Regions from separate parts of the Homo sapiens genome. Here regions 2, 3 and 4 are each reported to be linked to region 1. Evidence: microRNA targets listed by miRTarBase, many of them from high-throughput screens and not tested one by one. Region 1 holds a microRNA gene; each other region holds the end of a gene's coding sequence.
Evidence for each region. Region 1 holds the annotated microRNA hsa-miR-1307-3p (ACUCGGCGUGGCGUCGGUCGUG, at 2,435-2,456, opposite strand). A microRNA usually pairs through its seed, bases 2 to 8, with sites in the 3' UTR of a target mRNA and lowers its output. Matches are read on the target gene's strand: a 7mer-m8 pairs with bases 2 to 8, a 7mer-A1 pairs with bases 2 to 7 and ends in A, and an 8mer does both.

Region 2: the mRNA of ZNF841 is a reported target of hsa-miR-1307-3p. Seed matches in the 3' UTR shown: 7mer-A1 at 1,436-1,442.
Region 3: the mRNA of TNRC18 is a reported target of hsa-miR-1307-3p. The part of its 3' UTR that is shown has no 7-base or 8-base seed match.
Region 4: miRTarBase lists FAM120AOS as a target of hsa-miR-1307-3p. Seed matches in the 3' UTR shown: 7mer-A1 at 3,603-3,609 and 7mer-A1 at 4,177-4,183.

What each region holds. Positions count from the first base shown.
Region 1 is chr10:103,391,867-103,398,984 of GRCh38, forward strand. MIR1307 (microRNA 1307) reads right to left here and starts at 2,535; the gene lies at 2,387-2,535. It overlaps ATP5MK (ATP synthase membrane subunit k), which reads right to left and starts at 4,609. Exons shown (of 5, transcript NM_001206427.2): 1 at 4,543-4,609; 2 at 3,880-4,166; 3 at 505-600; 4 at 325-417. The coding sequence starts at 591. The coding sequence ends at 328. It overlaps PDCD11 (programmed cell death 11), which reads left to right and starts at 4,760. Exons shown (of 36, transcript NM_014976.2): 1 at 4,760-4,864; 2 at 6,550-6,662. The coding sequence starts at 6,561. RefSeq lists enhancers at 3,872-4,704, 4,097-4,186, 4,337-4,586, 5,244-5,745, 5,746-6,246.
Region 2 is chr19:52,059,023-52,066,140 of GRCh38, reverse strand. It overlaps ZNF841 (zinc finger protein 841), which reads left to right. Exons shown (of 7, transcript NM_001136499.2): 7 at 1-1,676. The coding sequence ends at 1,034. It also overlaps the pseudogene LOC100419835. Among named protein-coding and RNA genes, the nearest start is that of ZNF432, 14 kb to the right of the region's middle. RefSeq lists an enhancer at 1-1,127.
Region 3 is chr7:5,302,001-5,309,118 of GRCh38, forward strand. TNRC18 (trinucleotide repeat containing 18) reads right to left here. Exons shown (of 30, transcript NM_001080495.3): 29 at 6,875-6,949; 30 at 4,811-6,312. The coding sequence ends at 6,106. It overlaps SLC29A4 (solute carrier family 29 member 4), which reads left to right. Exons shown (of 11, transcript NM_153247.4): 11 at 797-4,912. The coding sequence ends at 939. Among named protein-coding and RNA genes, the nearest start is that of SLC29A4, 23 kb to the left of the region's middle.
Region 4 is chr9:93,441,171-93,448,288 of GRCh38, reverse strand. FAM120AOS (family with sequence similarity 120 member A opposite strand) reads left to right here. Exons shown (of 3, transcript NM_198841.4): 3 at 592-4,957. The coding sequence ends at 678. Among named protein-coding and RNA genes, the nearest start is that of FAM120A, 7.0 kb to the left of the region's middle.

The DNA of each region.
Region 1 (7,118 bases):
GTGATCTCGGCTCACTGCAACCTTCGCCTCCTGGACTTAAGCAGTTCTCCCACCCTGGCTAATTTTTGTTTTTTGGTAGAGATGGGGTTTCATCATGTTGCCCAGGCTGGTCTTGAACTCCTGGGCTCAAGTCATCTGCCCGCCTTGGCCTGCCAAAGTGCTGGGATTACAGGTATGAGCCACTATACTAGGCCTCTGTATTTTTTTTTCTTGTATGCTATAAATTTTGCAAAATGACAATGGTTTATTTTTATACTAAATGTTAGGGAAAAATCCTAACATCAAAATGGCTAAATTATAAAGGTTTAAATGTCAACTTCTTACCATTTATGTTGCTTTCACAGCTGGAGTTTTTTTGGACCTTAACTTGAAATATAAGACAATCAATGCAATGCTTCCATATGTGGCCAGTACACACTGAGAAAGAAAGAAAAAAGTAAACAAGACTTGTTGTTCCATCTATATTATTTTAAAATATAACTGCTTAAAGTTATCAATACTTACGTTCATTCTACCTGTGAGAGTATAAGAGTTGAAATATTTTTTAATACCAGTGAACTGGTATTGCGCATCACTTTCTGGACCTGCCATGATTTCAATCTTTTAAAAAAAGAAAGAAAGCAACATTAAATTGGTTTGGATGTAATTTAAAAGTAAATAAATTTTGTCTTGTTTTAGTCTAAAAACTCAAGGTCACTGCATATAAATACTGTAAATTTTTATCTATATCTCACCCAACACAGTAGTAGCAAAGATGGTGGAAAAAGCCTTCCTGAAAGAAAAGCTTTTGGAAGTAGGATTTTACCTTGATCGCTATTTCATGAACACCTCAGAATACATCAAATCACACAATAGCCCCTGCTAAGTTCATTCTCTGACCCAATACAGCTTAATATTTTCATTCCTGGCTCCATCACACCACAGTCCATTGAATTAATCCATTTTAAGGCTACTCAAAAATTGGAGCTGGTATTTTTCAAACATTCAACGGGTGACCATCAACTAAACAGCTCAATTACAACCCCTACTTATACAATTTTTCTTGTTATAAGTAATTTAGGACCTCCATGGGAGAAGGGAGAAGGGATAATTTATTAAATGGAGTTAATAATAGCTACTGGTGGTAGTAAGGAAGCTGGAATCCTTGCACCACCACCAAAATAGATAAAAGATTTAAATGTAAATAGTGAAACCAAAAAGTCCTGGAAGAAAACATGGGGAAATATTTAAGTCATCTCAGGGAAGGGAAAATATTAAGAAAAAAAGCCAAAAACCAAAAAAAACATAAAACCTATTAGTCAAAGAAATGTAAAATGAGATCAATATTTAATCATCAAACAAGCAAAAATAAAATTATGGTAAGTAGTAGTATTAAGTATGTGAGAAAACTAAGAATTCTCTCTCTGTTGCTTGGAGTATAAACTGGTAAAACCAGCCTGGCACGGTGGCTCATGCCTGTAATCCCAGCACTTTGGGAGGCCAAGGCGGGTGGATGCGAGGTCAGGAGATCGAGACCATCCTGGCTAACACGGTGAAACCCTGTCTCTACTAAAAATACAAAAAATTAGCCGGGCGTGGTGGTGGGCGCCTGTAGTCCCAGCTACTCGGGAGGCTGAGGCAGGAGAATGGCATGAACCTGGGAGGCGGAGCTTGCAGTGAGCCTAGATTGCGCCACTGCACTCCAGCCTGGGCGACAGAGCGAGACGCCGTCTCAAAAAAAAAAAAAATAAATAAATAAAAAATAAATAAACTGGTACAACCTTCAGAAAGTGCAAGTTGGCAGTATCTTATCGAATTATAAAATGAGTATACCCTTTCATCTAGCTGGTGTTTTTCTCCAGGAATTTACCCTTATTGAAATATTACAAAGTGGAAACACATTGTGTGGTTCAAAGATGGTCAATGAAATACTGTTTATGAAAATCTTAAAAGTCCATCTATAGAAGACTGATTAAAAAATGATGGTTTCCATTAAACGACACACAACAGGCACAGATCTTTGTGTACTGACATGGGAAGATGTCCCAAGTAACGTTCAATTTTGTAAGAAAAAATCTTATTTCTGGATTTTATAAAGCACGTCAATGGTTCTGGGTCTTGTCCCTAGACCAGCAGCATTAGCATCACTGGAAACTTGTTAGTGCAAATTCTTAGGCCCTACCTATTGAATCAGAAACTCTGGGTCCAGGAATCTATTTTAATAAGGCTTCTAGATAATTCTAAAGCATGCTAAAGTTTGAAAAATACTGCAGTAAATGAAATAGAAAAATAGTAAGTGTATTAAAAAAAACTCTGGAAGAATATATAGCAAAGGCAGCTTAATCTATAGTACCTGTGTATTTTACAAAGGCATGAATTTCTTTTATAGACAAGACGTATTCAAAAGGTCACCAGAACAAGAGCTGAAAATTCGTATGCATGACCGCCTATCTACCACGACCGACGCCACGCCGAGTCGATTGGCAACACAGACGAGCCGGTCGAGGTCCGGTCGAGATTGGTAGGCAGTGACAGTGACTCAGCTGGGTCTTGATGAAATGGAAGAGGGAGATATCTGTCAGGGAGTCATTACTATGGAAACTGGAACTCCCCCATTCAAAGGCTTTCAGAGGCATTCTTGTGTAAAGAATTGGCAATGAAAATTTGAGAAAAATGACCTTAATTTTCAAGTTTCAAGAAGGTTCTTGGAGCAATGAAGGAAATCCAAACTTCCTTAGGCCTCTTCAGAGACCTTGGCCAGTCTAGCCCAAGTAGGAAAATCTCCATTAAAAATAACTTTATACACTTGATCTTAGCCAACAGAAGCGATAAAAGCAACTTTATAATGTAGCTATCAACTGTTCCACTTTACTAAACTTACTAAAGACATACTTCCCCCCGCCCCCCGCCCCCCCACCAGCTCCATTCATTTCATGATACATTTTTGGATTCACTTCTTAGGGTTTGAAGTAGGTTTTTAGGAGAAACGCTACAGAAAATAAGGGCTTCACTTTGACCATTAACGAAAACCTCCACTACATTACATCTAACTAAACTTTTTAGGAGGATATGCCCAACAATACTACAGCGCTTTAAATTTCCCTTTAATTTACACACAATATGGGAGGAAGGCTGATGTTTTGTGATATCCCACAGAAGACTAATTCTGATTGCAGGGAAGTGCATGGTTCAAGAACTGAAATCAATCACTCAAGTTAGTCTGGGTCTTAAAGGAGGAGGACTCTTGAGAGGCTCAAATGGAGGGCCAAATGGGGAACGGGATTGTTGCTGGTGAGATAATGGAGTAAGGTCGAAAAATTTGGTTCTGCACTCTTCAGCACGGTGCAGGTTACTTTAGGGCAAAGATAAAGGAACCCTTGTGTTTACAGTGCCCTTTGTAAGACTCCTAGTTGTGATTTAATGTTGTTAAACGGTGGTATGTTTTAATTAAGTTGCTAACTGCCCTTCTTGAGACAAGGTCTCGCTCTGTCGTCCAGGCTGGAGTGCAGTGGCGCGATCTCAGCTCACTGCAATCTCCGCTTCCCGGGGTCAAGCGGTTCTCCTGCCTCAGCCTCCCGAGTAGCTGGAACTACAGGCGCGCGCCACCACGCCCGGCTAATTTTTGTATTGTTGGTAGGGACGGGGTTTCACCATACTACTCAGGCTGGTCTCGAACTCTGGACCTCAGGTGATCTACCCGCCTCGGCCTCCCAAAGTGCTGGGATTACAGGCGTGAGCCACCGCGCCCGGCCACTAACTGCTCTTAAATGTAACTAATCCTTCCGTGCCTCTCTCCACCTGTGAGATGGGCACTTTATTAAAGGTCCAAAGTGACCAGTAGCTCTTGTTACTTTCTCTGTTCCTCGATATTGCTATTTTCCTTTCTAACTTAACACCTACCTGGAATGGTGAGATCACGAGGTAAGGAAGGCAAAGATGAGTGAGAACCACTCAGGTAACAGAAGCAGCCTCTTGCATTCACGGAGTTTACAGCTCTCTGTTCTGGTTACCTCCTAGGAAAGGCCTTCCCACTGATCGTCTATAGACTGAAATCTAACCCTTTTACAGCGGGCCTGGCGAACTGTAGGGGCCGGGCCACATTCACTCGCTTTGAAAAAGGCTGCAGCGCACCTAAAGGAGGCCCGGCTGGCCAGCTTCCTAAAGCACAGCTCGGTGGGAACAAACAGCTATGGACATACAGAAGAAAAGAGGTTAATTCGGCCGGTGATGGGGATCAGAAGCCCTAGTCCTCGTCCAATATTACGTCACTGGGTGACCTCGAGGGACGCTTCGCGGAGGGCCTCATTTTTCTCCACTGGCGAATGCAATCTAAGGGTCTTCGGAAACTGTGGGAGCCCTTGGGCGCACCTATCCGCCTCACCTCGAGGCTTCTCACCCGCTGGCCGCCCCCTTGCGCCCCTCGTTTTTTCTAGCTCCTTTCCCATTCCCCACCGTTTCTCTCCTCCAAAGCTAAGAACTCGAGTTGCTCCTCGGCCAGAAACGGCGGGCGGTCCTGCAACGTGCAGGCGCCAGGTCCAAGCCCGGACTCCCCTCTTCACCCACCTGCCAAAGCCGCAAATTCCGCAGCTGGTGTCCTTCAACGAATGTAACCACCTCTCGGCCCGGCCGGAAGAAGCCACCTCCCCCGCACGCGTTTAGCCGGCCCCCGCGATTCGGCCTAATGCGACGATTGGCTATGGCTCCAAATCCCGCCCTTCCGATTCCTGTCTCTAGGTCACCTCCGCAACACAGCAACGGAAGTAGGGTGTTGAGCCCGCCCACACTTCCGGAAGAATTGCACTGGACTGTGGGTATCCTGGTCTCCGCGTGTGTGAGTACCGCGGCGCGAGGTTAGTGGTAGCTGGGTGCAGACGCCGTGGCGCTGGTGAGTAAAGGCAGAGGCGAAAAAGGAGGAAACCTCATGGCTGTCAGGTCTGTCCCAGGCCTGGTTCCCTGCCAGGCACACGCTAGATGAGTGTGGTTCGGCCACCTTAGCCCCGCTTCGAAGCCGGCTCTGTTGTAGCAGCCCCTGTAACCCCAGGCTTTGTGTTCGGAAAGTAGCCTAAGTATCTTCTGTGCCCCTGGATCGCCTTACTTTTCAGAGCCTCAGTTTCCCCTTGCTTGAAAGGAAATTAAGGGTGAAATTATCAGCAAACTAGACCCCCCAAACTTTCCTGTTTCTATGAATCATATACCCATCCCTGATTCCATATCCTTGGCCCCACCCGGTCATCACTTCTTTAGTCTAAAGCCCTTGTAGAGTCTTATTACCAAGTGTCTGTCAGAACTAACCTCTCCTGTCTTCTGTTTTCACTTATACCCAGTTCTGGTTCTCATGGTTTCTCTGCTGTACTGCATTTGAATCCTTTTTTTTTTTTTTTTTTTCTGTCACTGAGATAACAGGAAACAGTGCATTTGAATCCTTCTACCGAATTTACTTGCCTTCAATACTGTCTCTCTTCATGTCCAATCTATAGCCTGCAGTATATTTTTCTTGCTTACTGTTCTCTCGCTTTCCCTGCTTAAGTCTCTGACTTGCCAAAGCAAACTACCCATATCTAATTCAAGGTCTTCCACAAAAAAGCCCAACTTCTCCTTTAATTTTTTTGAGACAGAGTCTCACTTTGTCTCCCAGGTTGGAGTGCGGCGGCATGATCTCAGCTCACTGCAACCTCCGCCTCCCGGCCTCAAGCAATTCTCACGCTTCAGCCTGCCTAGTAGCTGGGACTAGGCGCAGGCCACCACGCCCGGCTAATTTTTGCGTTTTTGGTAGAGACGGGGTTTCGCCATGTTGACTATGCTGGTCTCGAACTCCTGACCTCAGATGATCCACGCGCCTCGGGCTCCCGAAGTGCTGGCATTACAGGTGTGAGCCATGGTGCCCGGCCTTCTTTAAAATTTAACTTCAATTTTTATGCTTTAATCTCCCAGTGGTCTAGTTGAATAATTCCTCAGAGACAACAGCAAGCCTTTGAGCAGTTGTTTGATAGGGAAATTGCTGGTGTTTATTGAAATAATAGGCTTTTCCCATCCATGTCTTTTCTCACATTCCCTTTCTACCTGTCAAGCTTCTGTTCATCTTTTACCCTTAAGCTAAAAAAGATCTTCTTTATGAAGCTTGCCTCCTTTACTTATCCCTTCCTACATTGCCTTATCCCTTCCTACATCTTTGTGATCATTTATAATCTGATTTGCATTTTAAGTTACTTGCATAATTGTTTTATCTTCCAAAAAGTGTGCATGTTCTTTGAAGGCAGAGGATTATATATTCATCTGTAGAGCTACAGTGTATCTCTGACTTAACTGTAGCTTCTTAGTGAGTATGTGCTACATTGAATCTATAACTTCTTTTTCTGGAAGAAGGTGGGTGGACTTGTGGTTTTGAAGCAGAGACCTTTGGAAAGATGAAGTATGGATTATTCCGGGCCTGACATCTAAACCATCTATGTTGTAGTCCTGAATGTTGTCTAGCATATTGCTGGAACGTTCTGTCTCTTGCCCGTTGATAACACCTTTCTGAAATCTGCTACCAAGACAACATGTCACCATTATCCTTTGCATTGTTTTTAGGAGACCCAAACATGGCAAACCTGGAAGAAAGCTTCCCCCGAGGAGGTACAAGAAAGATCCACAAACCAGAGAAAGCTTTCCAGCAGTCAGTTGAACAAGACAACTTATTTGATGTAAGTAGTATGCTTGTTTGGTGACACTCACTGGAAACTTTTACTGTAGTGTCTTGTGAAAAATGAGCCTTATTTGAGAATGTGTTATTTTTCCAGATTTTTTTTGCATTGAAGTCTACTTCTATAAATTTAACTCATTTAGAGAGGCCATACCACCACAAGGCTGTATCTTTTGAAGCTTGGCATTTAGTATTAAAGTACTGTTATTAGCTGGGCGTAGTGGCTCATGCCTGTAATCCCAGCAGTTTGGGAAGCCGAGGCAGGCGGATCACTTGAGGCTAGGAATTCAAGAGCAGCCTGGCCAACATGGTGAAACCCCGTCTATACTAATACCAAAACTAGCTGGGCATGGTAGTATACCTGTAGTCCTAGCTACTTGGGAGGCTGAGGCATGAGAATTGCTTGAACCAAGAAGGTGGAGGTTGCACTGACCCAATATTGTGCCACTGCTCTCCT
Region 2 (7,118 bases), not on the chromosome of region 1:
ATTCATGCCTAGCACGTCATCAAAGAATGCATACCGGAGAGAAACCTTACAAATGTAATGTGTGTGGCAAGGTCTTCATTGACAGTGGAAACCTTTCAATTCATAGGCGAAGTCATACCGGAGAGAAACCTTTCCAGTGTAACGAATGCGGCAAGGTCTTCAGTTACTACTCATGCCTAGCACGTCATCGGAAAATTCATACCGGAGAGAAACCTTATAAATGTAATGATTGTGGCAAAGCCTATACTCAGCGTTCAAGCCTCACTAAACATCTGGTAATTCATACTGGAGAGAACCCTTACCACTGTAATGAATTTGGTGAGGCTTTTATCCAAAGTTCAAAACTTGCAAGATATCACAGAAATCCTACTGGGGAGAAACCACACAAATGTAGTGAATGTGGTAGAACTTTTAGTCATAAAACAAGTCTGGTGTACCATCAGAGAAGACATACTGGAGAGATGCCATACAAATGTATTGAATGTGGGAAAGTCTTTAACTCCACTACAACCCTGGCAAGGCATCGGAGAATTCATACTGGAGAGAAACCTTACAAATGTAATGAATGTGGCAAGGTCTTCCGTTATCGCTCAGGCCTCGCACGTCATTGGAGTATTCATACTGGAGAGAAACCTTACAAATGTAATGAGTGTGGCAAAGCCTTTAGAGTACGTTCAATTCTGCTTAATCATCAGATGATGCATACTGGAGAGAAACCTTATAAATGTAATGAATGTGGTAAAGCTTTTATCGAAAGGTCAAACTTGGTTTACCATCAGAGAAACCATACTGGAGAGAAGCCATACAAATGTATGGAATGTGGCAAGGCGTTTGGGCGGCGGTCTTGCCTCACTAAACACCAACGAATTCATTCTAGTGAAAAACCTTATAAATGTAATGAGTGTGGCAAATCTTACATTAGTCGCTCAGGCCTCACTAAACATCAGATAAAACATGCTGGAGAGAACCTTACAACTAAACTCAATGTGGAAAGGCCGTTAGATGTTGTCCTAACCTCTGGGATCCCCAAATAATTTATACTTACTCATATAGCTTGTATATTTGTCCTTTCCCTTTGAAGTCTCATGTGGAATTGTAGTAATCTCCAGTATTGGAGGTGGAGCCTAGTGGGAGGTGATTGGATGATGGGGGTGGCTTTCTCAAGAAAGTTTTAGTACCATCCCCTTGTTGCTGTCCTTGTGATAGTTCTCATGAGGTCTGGCTCATGCCTGTAATCCCAGCACTTTGGGAGGCTGAGGTGGGCGGATCACTTGAGGTCAGGAGTTCAAGAGCAGCCTGGCCAACATGGTGAAACCCTGTTTCTGCCAAAAATACAAAAATTAGCTGGGCTTCGTGGCGGGTACTGGTAGTACCAGCTACTCGAGAGGCTGAGTCAGGAGAATTGCTTGAACCCTGGAGGCGGAGGTTGCAGTGAGCCGAGATCGCGCCACTGCACTCTAGCCTGGGTGACAGAGTGAGACTCCATCACGCACACGCACGCACGAAAGTGAATGGCACCTCCCTCTTGTTTGTTCTTCTGGCCATGTGACATGCCCTTCACCTCCCACCATCATTTTAACCTTCCTCAGGTTTCCCGAGAGGGTGAACAGACGTCAGCGCCATGTTTCCTATAAAGCCTGCAAAATTGTGAGTCAATTAAACCTCTTTATACATTACCTAGCCTCAGGTATTTCTGTCTAGCCATGCAATTATGGCCTAATATATTTACACATGGAGTGAATATAGCTAAGTTTTTTTTTTTTTTTTTTTTTTTTTTTTTTTTTTTTGGAGACGGAGTCTCGCTCTGTCGCCCAGGCGGGACTGCGGACTGCAGTGGCGCAATCTCGGCTCACTGCAAGCTCTGCTTCCTGGGTTCACGCCATTCTCCTGCCTCAGCCTCCCGAGTAGCTGGGACTACAGGCGCTCGCCACCGCGCCCGGCTAATTTTTTTTGTATTTTTAGTAGAGACGGGGTTTCACCTTGTTAGCCAGGATGGTCTCGATCTCCTGACCTCATGATCCACCCGCCTCGGCCTCCCAAAGTGCTGGGATTACAGGCGTGAGCCACTGCGCCCGGCCAGAATATAGCTAAGTTTTAAGCAAGTGTTCACTAGGCATAAGAATATACATCCTGGAGAGAAATCACAGAAGTGTAGTATATGTGGCAAGAATACTACTTAAAGGTCAAAACTTGTGGATCTATAACTCAAAGTGCAGATATGCTTTACAAATGAAATGAGGGTGGCAGAAGCTTCACCAGAGTTCAGTCACTACTTGAGAGTTTATATTGGAAAGAAATCGTATAAATGTATGTGCTAGAGGCTTCCCCGAGGTGTCTGAACTCACTAGACCTCAGAATATACATCTTTGACAAATGTAATGTGTGTGCTAAGACTTTTTACCCGAACATCCAAATGGAAACATCAGAGTATTCATACTGGAGAACAGTCTTACAAATGTAACGAATGTGGTAAGCCTTTTTAAAAATCAAATGGGCTGGGTATGGTGGCTCACACCTGTAATCCCAGCACTTTGGGAGGCCGAGGTGGGTGGATCATCTGATGTCAGGAGTTTGAGACCGGCCTGGCCAGCATGGTGAAACCCCATCTCTACTAAAAAATACAAAAATTAGCTGGGCAGTGGTGGGCACCTGTAATCCCGCTACTTGGGAGGCTGAGGCAGAAGAATCACTTGAATCCAGGATGTGGAGGTTGCTGTAAGCCGAGATTGCGCCATTGTACTCCAGCCTGGGTGACAAGAGTGAGACTCTGTCTCAAAAAAATAAAAAAATCAAATGTTCATGTTTTTGGAGTTTGAGAGAATTTATACAGGAAAAAAGTCATATCAGTGTGCTTAACATGGAAGGACCTTTAATCAGTAGTGTGTCTTCAGGCTTTACCAAATTATTCATACTGGATAGAAACCTTGCAAATGTAATTAACGTGGTAAAATTTTAAACCATTTCTCAGCCAGATGCGGTGGCTCACGCCTGTAATCCCAGCACTTTGGGAGGCCGAGGCAGGCAGATCACGAGGTCAGGAAATCGAGACCATCCTGGCTAACACGGTGAAACCCCGTCTCTACTAAAAATACAAATAATTAGCCAGGCGTGGTGGCACGTGCCTGCAGTCCCAGCTACTTAGGAGGCTGAGGCATGAGAATTGTTTGAACCCGGGAGGCTGAGCTTGCAGTGAGCCGAGATTGCACCACTGCACTCCAGCCTGGGCGACAGAGCAAGACTCCGTCTCAAAAAAAAAAAAAAAAAAAAAATTTCTCAACAGATTCCATGTTAGGTAAATCATACTATGGATAACTAAGTCTGCTTCTCCATCCAGGATTGACCTGGAATGATACATACGGTAAAATAACCACAAGACAAAATTTGTTAAAACCCCAGGTAATATGTACATCAAAGGATCAAGAGCGTGTGTGGAAATGGCCAATTCAGTATATAAAATAATTGTATTCACTTTGACATTTCTTAAAAAGGCTAGTTGACTATTTGTGACCTTCATCCTAAAGTATGAAGTCTTGCCTTTCCTACACATCTTTCATTGTGGTCTCTGGGAATAAATCAGTAAGGTGAGAGGGCCTGCTTCATTAGGTGTGGTTCCTTCATATCCATGTTTTCTGGAAGATTAAGGTCACTGTACTGTGTGAGTTAAGCAGCATGGAATATGGTGGAGAATGATGTAAATTTACAATGTAAGTCACTGAGCTTGTTGTGTTCAGAGTGTCCTTTGACAAATACAGTGTTGCTTTGGGATATGGGAAACATACGGAGTATGTTTCACTAACCTAAAAATCTGTGCTCCACCTAGATTTGTACATTCTTTTCACTTCTGTCACTTGTTGCTTCACATGTTTTGCAGCTGGTTTTAAGTGCATACAGACAAGATTCTCAAATCATCTTTGTAAATTGACATTATTATCATGTCACCACCCTGTTGCCCAGGCTGGAGTGCAATAGTAATAAGGTCAACTTTTGGAACCCTTCTGCAAATTTCCTAGGATTTTTAGAGTAGCTTCCTAGCTTTTCCTTACATTGCTGTATATCAGTTATAGAGAAGGGGACCTGCAATAGGACTGGCCATTCGGCTCCTGCTGCTTCCCTACGGGGTAGCAAGGCTGGAGGGAGAGTAGAATATGGTGTTCCCCACTGAGTGTTTGGGGGACTTAGTAGGGTCCCCAGTGTTTGCTCCTGGTTTTAGCCTCAGGAGCACTTGGTAAGGGGGCTATAGGGATGGTCGCTCTTCACCCTTAGAGACAAGTGGCTCTTGTAAAAGGGGGTCATCTGGTTTGGCACGGTGGCTCACGCCTGTAATCCCAGCACTTTGGGAGGCCGAGCTGGGCAGATCACCTGAGGTCGGGAGTTCGAGACCAGCCTGACCAACATGGAGAAACCCCGTCTCTACTAAAAATACAAAATTAGATGGGCATGGTGGTGTGTGCCTGTAATCCCAGCCACCTGGGAGGCTGAGGCAGGAGAATTGCTTGAACCTGGGAGGTGGAGGTTGCAGTGAGCGGAGATCAAGCCATTGCACTCCAGCCTGGGCGATGAGAGCAAAACTCTGTCTCAAAAAAGAAAAAGTAAGAGTGGGGGGGATCATCTATAATATCTAATTCTACCTTAGAACTTTCCTTTGGTGGTGGGGGTGGGTTCTGGGAGTTTGACAGATTGCTAGGTTTTGGTATAAGGTCATAAAATCCTGTGCATATGGGATTTCTGACCATTTGCCCTGCCTCTTGCAAAATAGGTCTAATGGCAGGATGGTGTCATAATTAAGGCTACCAAGACTGCCCATTGTTCCAGGCTGGGCAGTTCATAATGGGGGCAGACAATAGTGCAAAAAAAATTTTACATTTTATCTTTAGAGTGTCAGGGTCAAATTGATTTCCATGGTTGAGGATGTAGCCAAGTGTGGAATCAGGTGGAATAGGTGGAGAGTTGCCCATAGTGGTTTGGAAAAGAGAAGAGGACTTTGAAAAGTGGAGGGCTCATTAGGTGACCCAAATTTTACCTGGGGCATCCCCCCTTTAGGGCCCCAACTTAGTCTGTCAGACATCTCTGACCTTAGATGGGTGCTGGCACCACTTTGGAATGGTTCCCTCCATCACTGAGGACCTGACTTAAAGTTTTTCTATCTCACTTAAAACAACCCTTTAACGCTCTCAACTTAGGCAATAATAAATTCCTTTTCATGAATTCCCTCCACCACCATGCACCACACAGACCACATGCCCGGACCCTCTGACTTGTGTAACCTTTTGTGCATAGCTAGGTGGGTTTTCTGTCCTTTGCCAGTTGGGTGGGAGAAGGGAAGAATTTAGCATAAATAAAAGCAGCATAAGTCACCTGAAACCTGTGAGTTTGCCCTGGACGAGCTGCTGCTGCTAACTGCATCACACATAGGGATCAGGGATTATAACTGAAAAGGACAGAAATGAGTCTTTTCCCTTTCTGGGCAGGGCAGCCATCCCTGTTCACTCCTTGGCCTTCAGAGGATACCAGAGAGTGGCCCCAGTCAGTTCCCCTCAATTACCAACGAGCTACTAGGAAACGGCCGCTGAAAGACTGAAAAAGGAGAAAAGGAAAATAACTCAGAAAAAAAAAAAAAGGAATAGGACTCAGAAAAACAAAAACGAGGAAAAGGACTCAGGTTCCTCACCTTAACCAAGCGGTGGCAGTTAGGCACTTCCACACGGAAACCTTCCAGTTTCACCAGAGAATGGCCCTGGCCAGAAACTTGCAAGTGTCTTTGTGCTTAGGTGCTGTCCACTGAGGGTCCTCAGTTGGAAAGGAAAAGATGGAGAGAGGAAGATTTCCCTGTATGTAAAAGGGGAAAGGAGAAAAAGAAATCCCAAACTTTGGGCCTACCTTCTCTCCTGGCTAGCTCACCAGAATATGTTACCAGTAGAGGGTCTTGACTGCAAGTTGTTTAGGTTCTTGGCATTTTGAACAAAGACTTGGAAGAAACACCCAGCAAAGCAATGAAAGAATGCAGCATCAAAAGAATGAAAACAGGAATTTATTGAAAATGAAAGTACACTCCACAGTGTGGGAACAGGCCCAAGCAGTGGCCCAGATACAGAATCTTCTTGGGTCCAAATGACTACTAGAGGTTTCCCGTTGGCTGCTTGGTGCTGACCTAATGTAAATGAAATGGTGGCCTGCAGTCAGTCAACCAATCAGAGGCTGAAGTAAAGTTACAAAAGTCACACTCCTACGCAAATATCTGATTGGTTGCAAAAAGCAACCAATCAGAGGTACTTTTAATTTCCCATCTGCCAGGCAGAAAAGGTAGAGGTTTGCAAAGGGAGTAGTCTCTGGTCCTTTTGTTACTTAGGTGTGGAAAGTTAGGGTTTTCCCATCAATTTAGCTTAAGGACGTTAGCGTGAAACAGCCTTAGGTTTCCTGCCTCCAGACCATGTTCTCCTGCCTCAGGATCACAGGCTCACGCCACCATGCCTGGCTAATTTTTGTATTTTTTGTAGAGATGAGGTTTCGTCATGTTGCCCAGACTGGGAGAAATATATTTTAAGGTATAATTAGCATGTTGTGTTTTAAAAATCCTGTTGATATACTTGCACATTAGTAACAGAGCTTTTGCTTCCACATTGTACAATTTCAGTTCAGTATCTTGTATCATTCTAATTATTTCACTGAACTTAAAATGTAAGGGACCTTCTACATATTGATAGAACACATGCTTTGCATCTGTCATTTCTCTGTGTGTGTGTGTGTGTGTGTATATATATATATATATATATTTTTTTTTTTTTTTTTTTTTTTAGACAGAGTCTCGCTCTGTCGCCCAGGCTGGAGTGCAGCGGCGCGATCTCAGCTCACTTCAAGCTCCACCTCTCGGGTTCTTGCCATTCTCCTGCCTCAGCCTCCCAAGTCGCTGGGACTATAGGCGCCCACCACCACGCCTGGCTAATTTTTTTTGTATTTTTAGTAGAGACAGGGTTTCACCATGTTAGCCAGGATGGTCTCGATCTCTTCGTGCTCTGCCCACCTCGGCCTCCCAAAGTGCTGGGATTACAGGTGTGAGCCACCGCTCCCAGCCTCTCTGTACAAATTTTTTGCCACACAAATCTGAAAATACCACCTTGATT
Region 3 (7,118 bases), not on the chromosome of region 1:
AGTGCAGTGGCACGATCTCAGCTCACTGCAACCTCTGCCTCGCAGGTTCAAGCAATTCTCATGCCTCAGCCTCCTGAGTAGCTGGGATTATGGATGCCCCCCACCATACCTGGCGAATGTTTGTATTTTTAGTAGAGGTGAGATTTCACCATCTTGGCCAGGCTGGTCTCGAACTCCTAACCTCAGGTGATCTGCCTGCCTCAGCCTCCCAAAGTGCTGGGATTATAGGTGTCAGCCACCATACCTGGCTGAGACTGGAGATTAAAATGGGGAGGGTTAGGGCCAGGCTCACTGGCTCAGGACGGTGTTTTGGGAGGCCAAGGTAGGACTATCACTTGGGACCAGCCTGGGCAGTATAGCAAGACGGAGTCTCTACAAAAAAATTTTTTTAGGTTAGCCAGGCACGGTGGTGCATGCCTGTGGTCCCAGGTACTCGGGAGGCTGAAGTGGGAGGATCGCGTGAGCCCAGGAGGTCAAGGCTGCAGGAAGCTATGGTTGTACCACTGCACTCCGGTCTGGGCAACAGAGCAAGACCTTGTCTTTAAATTTTAAAAATGGGGGCTTGGGGGACTCAGAGAAGGCAGGCAAGGCCTGGAGTGCATAGCAGATGGCCTCGGGAAGAAGGAATGAGGAAGGACAGGATCCGGAGAGGGTGCTCCCAGGAGGAGCGATGGGGCAGCGGGTCCTGGAGGGGCGGCACGGTTCAGGCGGGTGTCACCGCACCTCACACCCGAGCAGCCGTGGCCACCAGGTGGCCGCCCTGGCCCTGCTCCCCTCAGGCTGGTGTTGTCCACAGGGAACACCATGACCGTGTCCTACATGTCAGGGCTGACGCTGGGGTCCGCCGTGGCCTACTGCACCTACAGCCTCACCCGCGACGCTCACGGCAGCTGCCTGCACGCCTCCACCGCCAATGGTTCCATCCTCGCAGGCCTCTGAGCCAGCCCCGCCCACTGCCAGGGACGCCGAGGGCCTGACCAGGGGCCCCGAGGCCTGAGGGCCCCTCCCCTGTCCCCACCTCAGTGCCTGCGGGGCCCTGAGCCTCCCCCTGTGCCAGCAGCCCCACTCCCTCAGGGTCCAGCCATGCCCCACCCTGGACTGAAGTTCTGCAAAGTCCTCCGAGGACCGGAACACGTTTCTGCGACCCGGGGCTCTGGCCAGCACTGTGTTCTGCGTTTGGTCTCATACCTGCGTCTACCTTCCATCTGTGTCCAGCGGCCCCGGCTCCAGCCCAGCCAGCACTCTGCAGGGTCACACGCACCGTGTCCCCACCCAGGACAGCAGACACCCGCCAGAGTGTGCGCGCCCAGTGACTGCACCCCGGCCCTCATCACCCACCGGCACTGATCGGGGCACCGCCTGGCCCAGCCTCCACCAGGGACCCCTCCTCATGAACTCTGGAGCCCTGAGAGGAGAGGGGCAGCCCCCCACCTTGTCACCCTCAGGGCTTCCCCTTCTGTCCTCATTCTTAGAGACTGCTTCTCCCAAACATAACGCGTTAGCCATGAAGGAGTCGGAGCCCTGGGTCCGAATGGACCCGCCTGCGGTCTGCATCAGCCTCTGGGAAACCACAGCAGTGATGCCAGCTGGGCACGTCAGGACCTCCCCACACACCCACACGATGCCACAGGTCAGGGGGCTGTGCCTGACTAGGGAGCCCTCCCATTGCCTTCCTGGCCCGGGATAGAAGAGGGGAGGTAAGTCTGGGGGCTACGAAGCCGGGCCCCCACACCCTGGCTGAAGTCAGCTTGACCTAGGTCTTGACCCTCATCCAGCAAGGGACTCGACAGACCCAAGGGTCCCTGGAACGTAGGGAGGGGCTGGGGGTCAGTCCAGCCCGGGCCTCCCAGAACACCAGGCCCGTGTGGGTGGCACCCTGAGGTCAGGGGATCCTAAGGGTGTCCTTCCAGAGACGGTGTTTCCAGGGGGAGGACCGCCCCCGCTTCCAGATCCCCGGCCCCGGCTGTGACTGCCCTGTTTCACCCCTGCTGTGTCCCATCCCCCGTCTGTCCACTAACTGTACCGCACCGGCCATTAAAAGATGAAGGCAGACCGCTGCACCGCCGCCTGCAAGCAGAGTTTGTGCGTGGACGGGGGCTGGGACTGCCATCTCGGGATACCGGTGGAACTCGGGCTGCCCCGCATAAGCCGGTCCTCAGTCTTCCCATCTGTGAGGTGGGCCGGGTGGATCAGGGAGCAGGAGGGTGTCCTCACACTGGGTAGGCTTGGTTTGTGGGCAGCGCTGGGTAGTGGGGTGAGAGCTGGGAGCACTTAGGGTTTGTCGCTCACCTTGACCGCCCGCCCCCCCCACCCCTTCGTGAGGATCAGGGAGGATGGCCACATGCAGCCCATTTGAAGGGGAAACAAAGTGGGCGGGGCTTGGCCCCTGCCCCTCAGGGACTGCACTGCATCCTAGGAGTCAGAGCCTCCTGGCTTCGAGCCTCATCCCTTTTGCTGATTTGTGCAATTTGGACAAAATCCTGCACTGTTCTGTGCCTCATTTCTTTCTTTTTTTATTTTTTTTTTGAGACTGAGTCTTGCTCTTGTCACCCAGGCTGGAGTGCAGTGGCACGATCTTGGCTCACTGCAATCTCTGCCTTCCAGGTTCAAGCGATTCTCCTGCCTCAGCCTCTCAAGTAGCTGGGATTACAGGTACGCACCACCACACCTGGCTAATTTGTCTTGTGGAGACCGGGTTTCACCATGTTGGCCATGCTGGTCTCGAACTCCTGATCTCAAGTGATCCATCTGTCTCATCCTCCCAAAGTGTTGGGATTACAGGTGTGAGCCACTGCACCCGTCCTGTGCCTCATTTTTGTTTTTTCTTTCTTTACAAGACAGGCTCTCGCTCTGTCACTGAGGCTGGAGTGCAGTGGTGCCATCATAGCTCACTGCAGCCTCCACCTCCTGGGCTCCAGTGATCCTCCCACCTCAGCCTCCCAAATAGCTGTGAATACAGGCGCGTGCCACCACGTCTGGCCAGATTCTTTTATTTTGTGTAGAGATGGGGTCTTGCTGTTGCCCAGACTGGTCTCAAAGTCTGGGCCTCAAGTGTTCCCCCTGCCTTGGCCTCCCAAAGTGCCAGGATTACAGGTATGAGTCACTGCGCCTGGCCTGTTCTGTCCTTAGCTTCCCCAAGGAATGGGGCTGGTCCAGGTTTTGATGTGGGTCCCGTAAAGGAGGGCACGAGGGCCACCTATGCTCTGGCAGGCATCCTCCCTGGGGCCCAGGTGGGCGGCCACTTGGGCCAAGACTGCGCCAGGTGACACCAGAGTGTTTCCCAGAGCCCATGCCGGGCCCTTCCCTTGCCCGAGGCCGGCTGGCTGCCCTCCATGGGTTACCCTCTTTGCAAAGCCCCGAATGTCCTCTGCAGGCCACCCACACTAACCAGGTCAGTCACTGGGCAGCCAGACCCCCACCTATAGCTTCCCTAGGCCCCAGTGCAGAGATGCCGTCCACCCCCATCTAGGTGAGGGCTTGGGGCCACTCTTAGCATTAGTATCATTTTCTTCTAGTATCATTTTGTGGTAGGCATGGCTGGAAATGTGCAGCTTTGCTTTTTTTTTTTTTTTTTTTGGAGGAGTTTCGCTTTTGTTGCCCAGGCTGGAGTGCAATGGCTCGATTTCAGCTCACTGCAACCTCTGCCTGCCGGGTTCAAGCGATTCTCCTGCCTCAGCCTCCCGAGTAGCTGGGATTACAGGCATGTGCCACCATGCCCGGCTAATTTTGTGCTTTTAGTAGAGACGAGGTTTCTCCATGTTGGTCAGGCTGGTCTTGAACTCCCGACCTCAGGTGATCCACCTGCCTCAGCCTCCCAAAGTGCTGGGATTACAGGCATGAGCCACCATGCCTGGCACTGGTTTTTTGAGATGGAATCTCGTTATGTCACCCCAGCTGGAGGGCAGTGGCACGATCTCAGCTCACTGTAACCTTTGCCGTGGGTTCAAGCGATTCTCCTGCCTCAGCCTCCCAAGTAGCTGGGATTACAGGCACGCTCCACCACACCCGGCTAATTTTTTTGTATTTTTAGTAGAGATGGGGTTTCACCATATTGGCCAGGCTGGTCTTGAACTCCTGACCTCAAGTGATCCGCCTCCCTTGGCCTCCCAAAGTGCTGGGATTACAGGCGTGAGCCACCGTGCCCATCCAACTTAACTTTTAATTTTTTCTCATGTAAATTTGTTCAATTTCTTTTTTTTTTTTTTTTTTTTTTTTTGAGACAATCTCTGTCACCCCCAGGCCAGAGTGCAGTGGTGCGATCTCAACTCACTGCAACCTCCACCCGCCGGGTCCCTGTGATTTTCCCACCTCAGCCTCCCGAGTAGCTGGGATTACAGGTGTGGGCCACCACACCCGGCTAATTTTTGTATTTTTAGTAGAGACGGGGTTTCACCACATTGCTCAGGCTGGTCTGAAACTCCTGGCCTGAAGTGATCCTCCCGCCTCGGCCTCCTAAAGTGCTGGGATTACAGGCACGCTCTACCACACCTGGCTAATTTTTTTTTGTATTTTTAGTAGAGATGGGGTTTCACCATATTGGCCAGGCTGGTCTCGAACTCCTGACTTCAAGTGATCCGCCTGCCTTGGCCTCCCAAAGTGCTGGCATTACAGGCGTGAGCCACTGTGCCCAGCCGATGAGCTCATTTAGATGGCTGCATGGGGTCACCGCCCCTGCACGCGTGGCACCCAACTTCTTCCAGTCGAATCCTGCTTCTTGGTGCCCTGATATGGCAGAATGCCCCCAGACACCACCCCTACTCCAGCCCCTGAAATAAACCACTCCAGACAATTTTATTTTTCCAATTAAATCTTTTCTTTTTTTTTATGAAAAAAGATCACACAGAATTTGCCAACAAACAAAATTCCAAAAGAAACATAAAAAAAAAAACCAATAATTCCCCCAAAAAACAAACCCAAAGTCTGGCTTTTCCTTCCCTCAAGATTGTCTGGTTGAGGCCTTGGTTTCCCTTGAAGGCTTGGGGCCTGGTTAAGTGCTTTCTGGGGCCCAAGCAGGGACCCTGGGCTTGGGCCGGCTCCTGCCTCTCCCTCTTCTCTCCCTAACAAACACTTCTCTATCCTGGGGGGTGAGTACAGTACACTTGGTGGGGTGGGCGGGGGGTGTGCTGGGGACTGGGAGGCCGGTGAAGCCGGTGCTAGACACTATAATCTAACAGGAAATAAAAAATAATATTCTGCACGTCAGAATGTTTTTTTTTATAATTTCATAGCTATTTTTCACAGTTTTAAAAAGTTTATATATATATTTATATATATTTATCTTTATATATATAATTAAAAAGTTGACTCCATTTAAAGGCTTATGATACAGGGGCGGGGCGAGTCTCTTGGTACAATAAAACTGTACAGGTTAAGAAGTGCCACCTCCCTCCTGGGTGGGGAGGGGCCAGGCGTGGCCGGGCGACAGTTTCAGCACCATTGGGGTTTTCTGTAGTGTGAGGGTTTGGACCAGGGTGGGCCTGTGCCGGGCCCTCTCCACCTGGTGCCTTTGACAGACACTCCGGGCTGCAACCCCACCCGGCTCTGTTCCCCAAGTCTAGGCCATCCTGAGAGGGTGGGGGCAGGGCCCCTGGCACAGTCAGGTAGGCCAGCTGGCATCGGGCTGCCCTGTCCCATGCACGGTGGGAGGCCTTGGGGTGGGCTCCATGCTAAGGGTGCTTGGGAAGCCCAGAGTGAGCGTCAGTTTGGTTCCTTAGAAGCGCCCCTCCCCACCGAATCCCCAGTCTGCATGGACCTGGGGGCACCCGGGCCCCCACGCAGCAGCAGCCTGGAGGGCCGGCCTGGCCAAGTGCTTGCAACGTGCTGGGCAGGAAGGGCCGGTCCGGCCATACCCTGATAGCTAAGAGGGGCCCCTGTCCTGGGGGCACTGAGGGGTTGGAAGGTGGGGCTGGAGGCATGTGCACATGCGTGCACACACGTGCATGCACACACACTCACCCGGGCATCCACGTGCACACCTGGCCCCATGCACACGCCTGCAGGAGCGCTCGCATGCACACAACGCACGTGGTCTCCGCGCCATGGCAGTGATGGAGATGGGTCCCTGGCCGCCCTCGGGGCACAGGTGGCCCGCAGGGCCCGGCGGGCTCAGCAGAGCACGGGCACGCCGTCCGTGGAGAAGATCATGCCCGTGGTGGGCTCGTAGGTGCCCGCGAGGTAGTACAGGCCCTCGCTGTCCTGGTACTTCTTGGTCTTCAGCATCTGCTCATACTGCTCCAGGCCCACCACCAGGCACTTGTGCGACACCGTCTGCACGTCATTTTCGTCCACATGCGAGGACTGGTATAGCGCGCGCTGCGGGCACGCGGGGATATCAGGATGGCAGGTGGGGGGCACAGAGGCCGAGGGAGCCCCAGGGAGCCACAGGGACAGAGACAGAAGCAGAGGGAGCCCCAGGGACTGAGACAGAGACCAAGTCAGAGACAGAGGCTGAGTAAGAGACAGACCAACAAAAGAGAGACAGAGACCGAGAGATGGAGAGCAAATGAGAGACAAGGATAGACAGACCAAGAGATCCAAAGACGCAGAGAGACAGAGACCGAGATCGAGAGAGACCCAGAGAGACACAGAGACTGAAAGATAGAGGTTGGGAGAGACCCAGAGAGAGTCAGAGGGCAAGAATGGCCAGAGACTCAGAGACAGACACTGGGAGAGCAGAGAAGACCCAGAGACAGACGCACAGACCAGAGAGACAGAGAACAGGAGCCAGGCACTGAGAGTGGCAGGGACAGGAGGTCAGAGGCTGAGGGAGACCATGGGGGACAGAGCAGCAGATGCTGAGCCGGGCCCTGTCTGAGCTGCCCGGAAGGAAGCAGCCATCCCCAACCCGCCCACCACCACCACCACCACCACCTACCTCCATGAAGTCCTTCCTCTGGCTGGAGACCCGCAGGGCCGCCGGGAGGCTGCGGCTGGACTTCTGGTCCCAGTGCTGTGTGGGGGAGAGAGGAGGGGCTTGGGTGAGCCCGGGGGCTGCTGCACCCGACCCCAGGCCCCAGGACAGGGCTGACCCACTGGGCAGGGCTGCTGATGCTCCAGCACCCAGAACGCCTCGCCCTCAGGTCTGCCCTACACCGCCTAGGACTGGGGGCCGCAGCCGG
Region 4 (7,118 bases), not on the chromosome of region 1:
CTCCTGACTTCAAGTGATCCACTTGCCTCTGCCTCCCAAAGTGCAGGGATTACAGGCATGAGCTACCGCGCCCAGCCTAATATCATTAATTAATATTTTACTTAGGTGAGGTATCTAACCACCAACAATAACAGATGAGTTTCCAGTTTTTCAAACAAGGTAATAAGAGACCTTAATGCTGCCCATGTAATCATTAGCAGATGTTGGGAGACCAGCAGACTGGAGCTAAGCAGGGAGTCTGCGATCATGGAAGAGAGCAAATTAATCCACACTAGGGATTCTAACCTATAATGTTTACCTAGCACCAGCCCTGTTAATTAATTGTCAATTTAAATTACCCAGAAGAACACACACATCTGTAGGCCTGCTTCATAAATGGTAGATCAGTAACTGACCACACTGCAGCCGTGTATCGGCAGTTGAGTTTTTTGGTCTTCAGGCTCTGCTATCTCTCCAGTACTATGAGTTATCAGCAGTAGCAGAGGGTAGGAGAGCTCCACAGAGATCAATATTCGGACTCTGGAGACCATGACAAAATACATTTCATATTCCAAACTAATATATAAACTACCTTTTTTTTTTTCTTTTCAGATTTCCAGAAGCTGTTCTGTCAATAACAAAGTCTCAAAGAAAACCACAAAACCACCAACACTAAGATCATTCTTGAGTCCAATTTGAAAAACTAGGGTCAAGTTCTGCAGAGGCATTGAAAGGACAAGAAACCACCCTGATACCCATCGTGTGAGGGAAAATGCTCTATTCACCATTCCTCAGCTTCTGCTTCTGGTTTCAGAGTTCTCTCTATATTGGAGGGTGTTTTAAAGCTAGAGTGGTCTTTATCCACTTTTATTAACACATCTGAATGTGAAGGTCAAGAGAGGAAAGTGATATGTCCTAAGTCAGAGTAGAGTCAACAAGAAAATAAGACAAACAGCGACTGAGCCCCTGGTGTATACTGGGCATTGGCCAGCTACTGGGGATATGGAGATGAAGAAAACATAACCCTTCTTCAAGGAGCCCAACCTACCAAGGTAGACAGACATATAGACAAATAGATACTTGCATAGAAAAAAAGAGGAAAAGGGGATCAGTGTGACCTGTGTAACTAAGTACCCTATAAACCCTCCTGCAACAGATCATATTGCCCTTTATAGTGGGGATGGTAATCCCATCTGAATTCCACAGGTACTTTGCAGTCATACCACACCCATGTGTCTGTCGGTCCTGACTGTACCATTTATAAACAGCTTCACTTTCAGCAGTTCTCAGCCCTCTTAAGCTAGGGTCATTGTCAGTAGGGATACTGCTTCATAAGCACCAGCAGAACACCAAAGGAGACCATATGGGTGAAAGCAACCAGCACTGCCCTGGCGCTTCATAGGTTCTTAGAGTTTTTATCTTTTACTTTCAGTCTAACACAGCACTGCCTGCTTTTTGTTTTTGTTGCTTGGTTTGTTTTTTTCTTACCGTGTTCACCAAACTTGTGTCCAAATAGCTTTGGGCTGATGCAAAAATATCTATGTGGAAGAGAAGAGTTGTTCTCATGGAGGGCCTTCAGATGAGTGCTATAGACTCTCTAGGCAACTCCAAGAGGCTTCTCAAGCAGGGTGGGCAGTGAGAGCTGCTATGGAATCAATGGACAAACTGACAGGGACTGCTTTGAAAGACAGTACTCAGTTGAGTATATATATTCTCTCTTAAGGGCTAAAAGTTTATAATCATCCCTTAAACACTCTGTGATGGGATCTTCAGGATCATCTTTTGAAGTAAACTATATTTTACAATGTGATATAAATCAAGTGAGTTTTTTTTTTAATTAGGAATTCCCGTAAGTATAAAGCCATTTTAAGATGTACATTTTAGAGACTAGCTATTGTTAAGTGGTCTGTTACATTTGTGTAAACCATAAAGATCTTTCCAGAGGAAGCAAGTCTCTCATACCAGAATATGAAAACACTAGCCCCAGGCTTGAGTAACCTAGATCACATGAAGCTGACTTCCTCTGAGGAGTCTAGGACCTCAGATATAGGTGGGAGCACACAATCACCCTTCTGGAAACAGCTAAGACTTGTGGCTCAGGCGTTTGACCTTGCTGACAAAGGAAGAGGTCAGGGTTGACGAGAGCTCCAGGAAGAATGAAAGTGCCTCTGGAAGGCAGGAAGAAAGTTACTGTAATACTTTATCCTTAGGGTGGAACAAGAGTCTGGGAAAGCTCTGCCCTATAAAGTCCCCTTCCCCATTCCTCCCAGGTCCCAGGTGTGGTGGTATAAGGAGAGTTGGCCCAATCTGGGAGCTGAGGGATCTGAGACATCCATCTACTGCATCAGTGCACTCAGAAGTGAGGATTTTGGCACAGTTATTCATGAGACATCAGCCCATCATATAAAACATGCCTCCAGTTTGGTTAAACTAGGAAGCACTATATAATATTTTAAAATCAGTTACATGTCACTGATAAAAGACTTAGTATTACCATGATGTTATTTTTCTTGAGGCAACATGATGAAACCCATTGTCTACAAAAAATCCAAAAATTAGCCAGGTGAGGTGTGCACCTGTAGTCCCATCTTCTCAGGAGGCTGAGGTGGGAAGACTACTTGAGCCAAGGTGGTGGAGGTTGGAGTGAGCCCAGATTACACCACTTGCACTCCAGCCTGGGCAACAGAGTGAGGCCTTGTCTCAAAAAAAAAAAAAAAAAAAAAAAACAACGATTTTTATGAAAGTTGGAGAACCAGGATTAAGACTGGGTGGGAACTAAGAATGACAGGTACTTTTAACAATACAGCTGGGATGCTGTTGATGACATGAATGAACCCCACTCTTACTGTAGTCATTTGCTCAAGATTCAAAGTCATGAAAAAGAGTAGAATGGACCAAACTTAGGTACTAAGAGTCCCCAGCCTGGCAGTGAAAACAGTATAGTTCCTTTGACTTTAATATGGGGAAACAGGTTCCTGGATTGACGATCTCACCAAAACTATACACAATTTTTTTTTATTTTTTCTCAGACCTTTCAGGGATGAATATATACAATTTCTGAGAAAGAAACCTGAGTACCTTTAGGAAGGGAAAAGGAATGCTGAATATCCCCAAATAACATGTCTTACATGTTTGGTAAGACTTACTGTACCCTGTCCTAGAAGATAGAAGATGCCCTGCCCTTAGAAGACAAAGAGACTGTAGAGCTATGCCTTCTAAATCTTAAGCCACTCTTCAGATAATGGATCCCTTCATGGTCAGCCCAAACATCTCAAGAACTTTTAATTTGTACCGTTTGTCTTTTTTTCCATTTATTTAATACCACAAATTCACTTTATTATTATGAAGCCAATATCTACATCTTCTCACAAAGATTCTCTTAAGAAATGCAGAACTGGCCGGGTGCAGTGGCTCATTCCTGTAATCCCAGCACTTTGGGAGGCCGAGGCGGGTGGATCACCTGAGGTCGGGAGTTCAAGACCAGCCTGACAAACATGGAGAAACCCTGTCTCTACTAAAAATACAAAATCAGCTAGGCGTGGTGGCACATGCCTGTAATCCCAGCTACTAGGGAGGCTGAGGCAGAAGAATCCCTTGAACCTGGGAGGCGGAGGTTGCGGTGAGCCGAGATCGCACCATTGCACTCCAGCCTGGGCAACAAGAGCGAAACTCCGTCTCAGGAAAAAAAAAAAAAAGCAGAACTCCTTACTGGCCTCAAAACATACTGTGACATTTCCGTAACCTACAGGTCTAGAAATCCTGTGCCAAATATGGTTAACTTGTTTGCTGAGAAGGATGTGGAAGAACTGGAACCCTCATACACAGCTGATGGGAAAACAGTCTGGAACTTTCTTAAAACATTCTGGTAAATGGGGGCCCGGCAAGCTAGAAAGTGTGGCTATAATCCCTTGCTTTTTTCCTTTTTTAAACTTTTTCTCTCTCAGTCCTGACCTAAAGATGACCCTAGTCAGGCTGGACACGGTGGCTCACGCCTGTCATCCCAGCACTTTGGGAGGCCAAGACGGGTGGATCACCTGAAGTCAGGAGTTCAAGACCAGCCTGACCAACATGGAGAAACCCTGTCTCTACTAAAAACACAAAATTAGCTGGGCGTGGTGGTGCATGCCTATAATTCCAGCTACTCGGGAGGCTGAGGCAGGAGAATCGCTTGAACCTGGGAGGTGGAGGTTGCAGTGAGCCGAGATCGCGCCATTGCACTCCAGCCTGGACAGCAAGAGCAAAACTCCGTCTCAAAAAACAAAAACAAAAACAAACAAAAAAATTCCCCTGAGAGAAAACCTGTCTTTCCAGCCAGAGGAGCAGGAAAAAATGACCCTATGGTCTGAAGAATGTGGAAATAATCCATCTTTTTTTCTCTCTCTGCTTTCTGCCTGAGGGGCGTTCCTTTTGGCAAAATGAGCAGGCAGTGTAGGCAGGTAATCATCAGAGAGAAAGCCCATCTTTCTAAGCCAGAGGATGAGGAAAAGGGGCCCCCTGGGTGCCAGGGAGTCTGGGGGGAAATCCTGAAGAGCAAAGACCTGAAAAGAGGATTCTCTAATTCTGTACATGAGCTGAATTCCGTGCTCAGCCCAGAGCTGCACATACAAGAGACAGAGCCCAGGCAACACAGCCACACTCTGAACTGACACTCGGACCACCACCACCAAACAGAAGGCAACGCAGGACCTGCAGACTAAGGCTAACGAGGCTGATTGCCTGACAAAACAGAAAAAAAAGAAACATTCTTCAGGGAATTTTAGCAGAACACAGAGTCTCCCAACATAAAACAGACAGTCCTCACTGCACAGCAGTTCAGAACTGTAAAAATGACCTTCCAACCTGAAACTGCCATGTGCTGTTCATAATCATTAATGGGTAAAATTGTGATTTTTTTCCTGTCTTTTGAAAATTGTCAAAACATTGATAATCTTGTACTGTTAGAAATGTATAAGGAAACAATAAAGTAAATATTTTTGTACACTGTAATTTAAAACATTAGCAACACAGGGAATTAAAGTGCTTGATGTCTTCCTAAAAAAACCATCAACAGACATTTAAACAGTGCTTGCCTTCTTCAAAAGTCATGTACCTTATGATATAGAGGGAGCACCTTTTCTGTGTTCAAAAACTTGTCATGCCCCTTCTAAGTTTGGATCAGCTTCCAATATTTTATCCTTTTTGCTTTCAATGTCATGAAATATCTCCAAGTCCCTTTAACGTGAAGGTTTTTGCTGACGTTCCTTCCTCTGGAACATCTTCATCCTTTTCATCACAACCGCTTTCTTCATTTATTTGAGGAATTCACCTTCTCGGCAGCAGTGCCAGCATCCCCATAGTCTGTTTCTTCAGTGACCCCATTTATGTTTGATTTGCATTCACGTTCAGTGTTTTCAGTTTGAGTTTCTTTGCTGCATTTCTATCTTTATTTGTCAGTTTTCTCTTTTGAATATCCATTTGTGTAAAAATGCCATGTGGGTTTATCACTGGAAGACAAGGAGGCCACACAATTCACACTTTGCTGTCTGTGCGTGAAATGAACACAGATGCACAGTGACCAATCACCCGTAGGTTTTGGAAAGAAGAGGCATGATTGGTCACTGATCATGATGTACCTGTGTTATTATGTAGTGATTTGTGGACTGGGGAGCTAGCAGAAAGTTTGAACTTCATGCAATTACAGTTAATATATTCTGGTAACTCAAATTTGAACCATGTTGTCAGGGGACTGGTGTTCACCATAATAACTAAAATTTCAGAATCATGAAATGTCACTTCTGATATAGTCTATTCATTAAAAGTCAGTCCTAATTCTGGCTCACACTCAAGGGGAGGGGAATTAGGCCCCAGCTTCTGAAGAGAGGATCTCCAATTAATTTGTGGACATATTTTAGGATTCTTCAGGAAGTCCATATTCCTGAAGAATATTGGCACTGGGTATAGAATTTTGGATGGATGATTCTTTCCTATGAGTGCTTTAAAGGTATTGTTCCACTGCATCCTGGCCTACATGATTTTTTATTATATGTCTGAGATAACCCGTATTTCAAATTGTTCTTCCCTATACCGAATGTGTTGGGTTTTTTTCTGGCTACTTTCAGGATTCTTTCAATCTTTGGTTTTCAGCAGTTCGATTATGATATGCTGAGCATCTTCTTTGGATTTTGCTGAGTTTCTTGAATGTGTATTTATATTGTTTGTCAAATTTAAGAAGTTTTCAGCAGTTATTTCTAAAAACTTTTTTTGTGTCTGCACCAATTTCTCTTTTCCCTCTGAGACTCTAGTGTCAAAAAATACGTGATTTTCTGGTGTTGTCTCCCAGGATCCTGAAGTTCTATTCATTCTGTTTAATCCATTTTCTCAGTGTCCTCTGGTTAATTTCTACTGATCTGTCTTCAATTCACTGACTCTTTCTTTTGTTATTTCCATTCTGCTAGTAAGTCCATCCATTACATTTTTTAACTTCAGAAATATAATTTTTTCAGTTCTAGAATTCTTAATTTTCATAGCTTCTGGGTCTCCATCAATAACTTCTTTCTTTCTTTTTTTTTAGGCAGAGTCTCACTCTGTCACCCAGACTGCGATCTTTGCACACTGCAACCTCCGCCTCCCAGGTTCAAGCAATTCTCCTGCCTCAACCTCCCGAGTAGCTGAGATTACAGATGTGCATCACCACGCCCGGCTAATTTTTGTGTATTTTTAGTAGAGACAGGGTTTCACCATGTTGGCCAGACTGGTCTCGAACGCTCAACCTCAGGTGGTCCACCCGCCTTGGCCTCCCAAGGTGATGGGATTACAGACATGAGCCACTGCGCCTGGCCCTTTGTTTTCATCTTAAGAGCACAGTTATAAAAGTTGTTTTAAGTTGTTGTCTGATGATCCAAGATCTGAGTCATTTTTGGAATGACATGTGTTGGTTGTCTTTTTCCTTGTGAATAGGTCATACTTACCTGGTTGCTTGCGCATCTAGTAATGTTGGATCATATTCTGGATGTTTTGAATACCAAGTCCCAAGAGTCTGCAACTTGTTAAAATCCCTGGAGAAGACTGATTGTAAGCAGACAACCAATTCAGTTAAGTTCAGATGACAAACTGTCTCCCCTTCTGTGGTGGTGGTCCCGGTGGCACCACTTCAAGTTTCA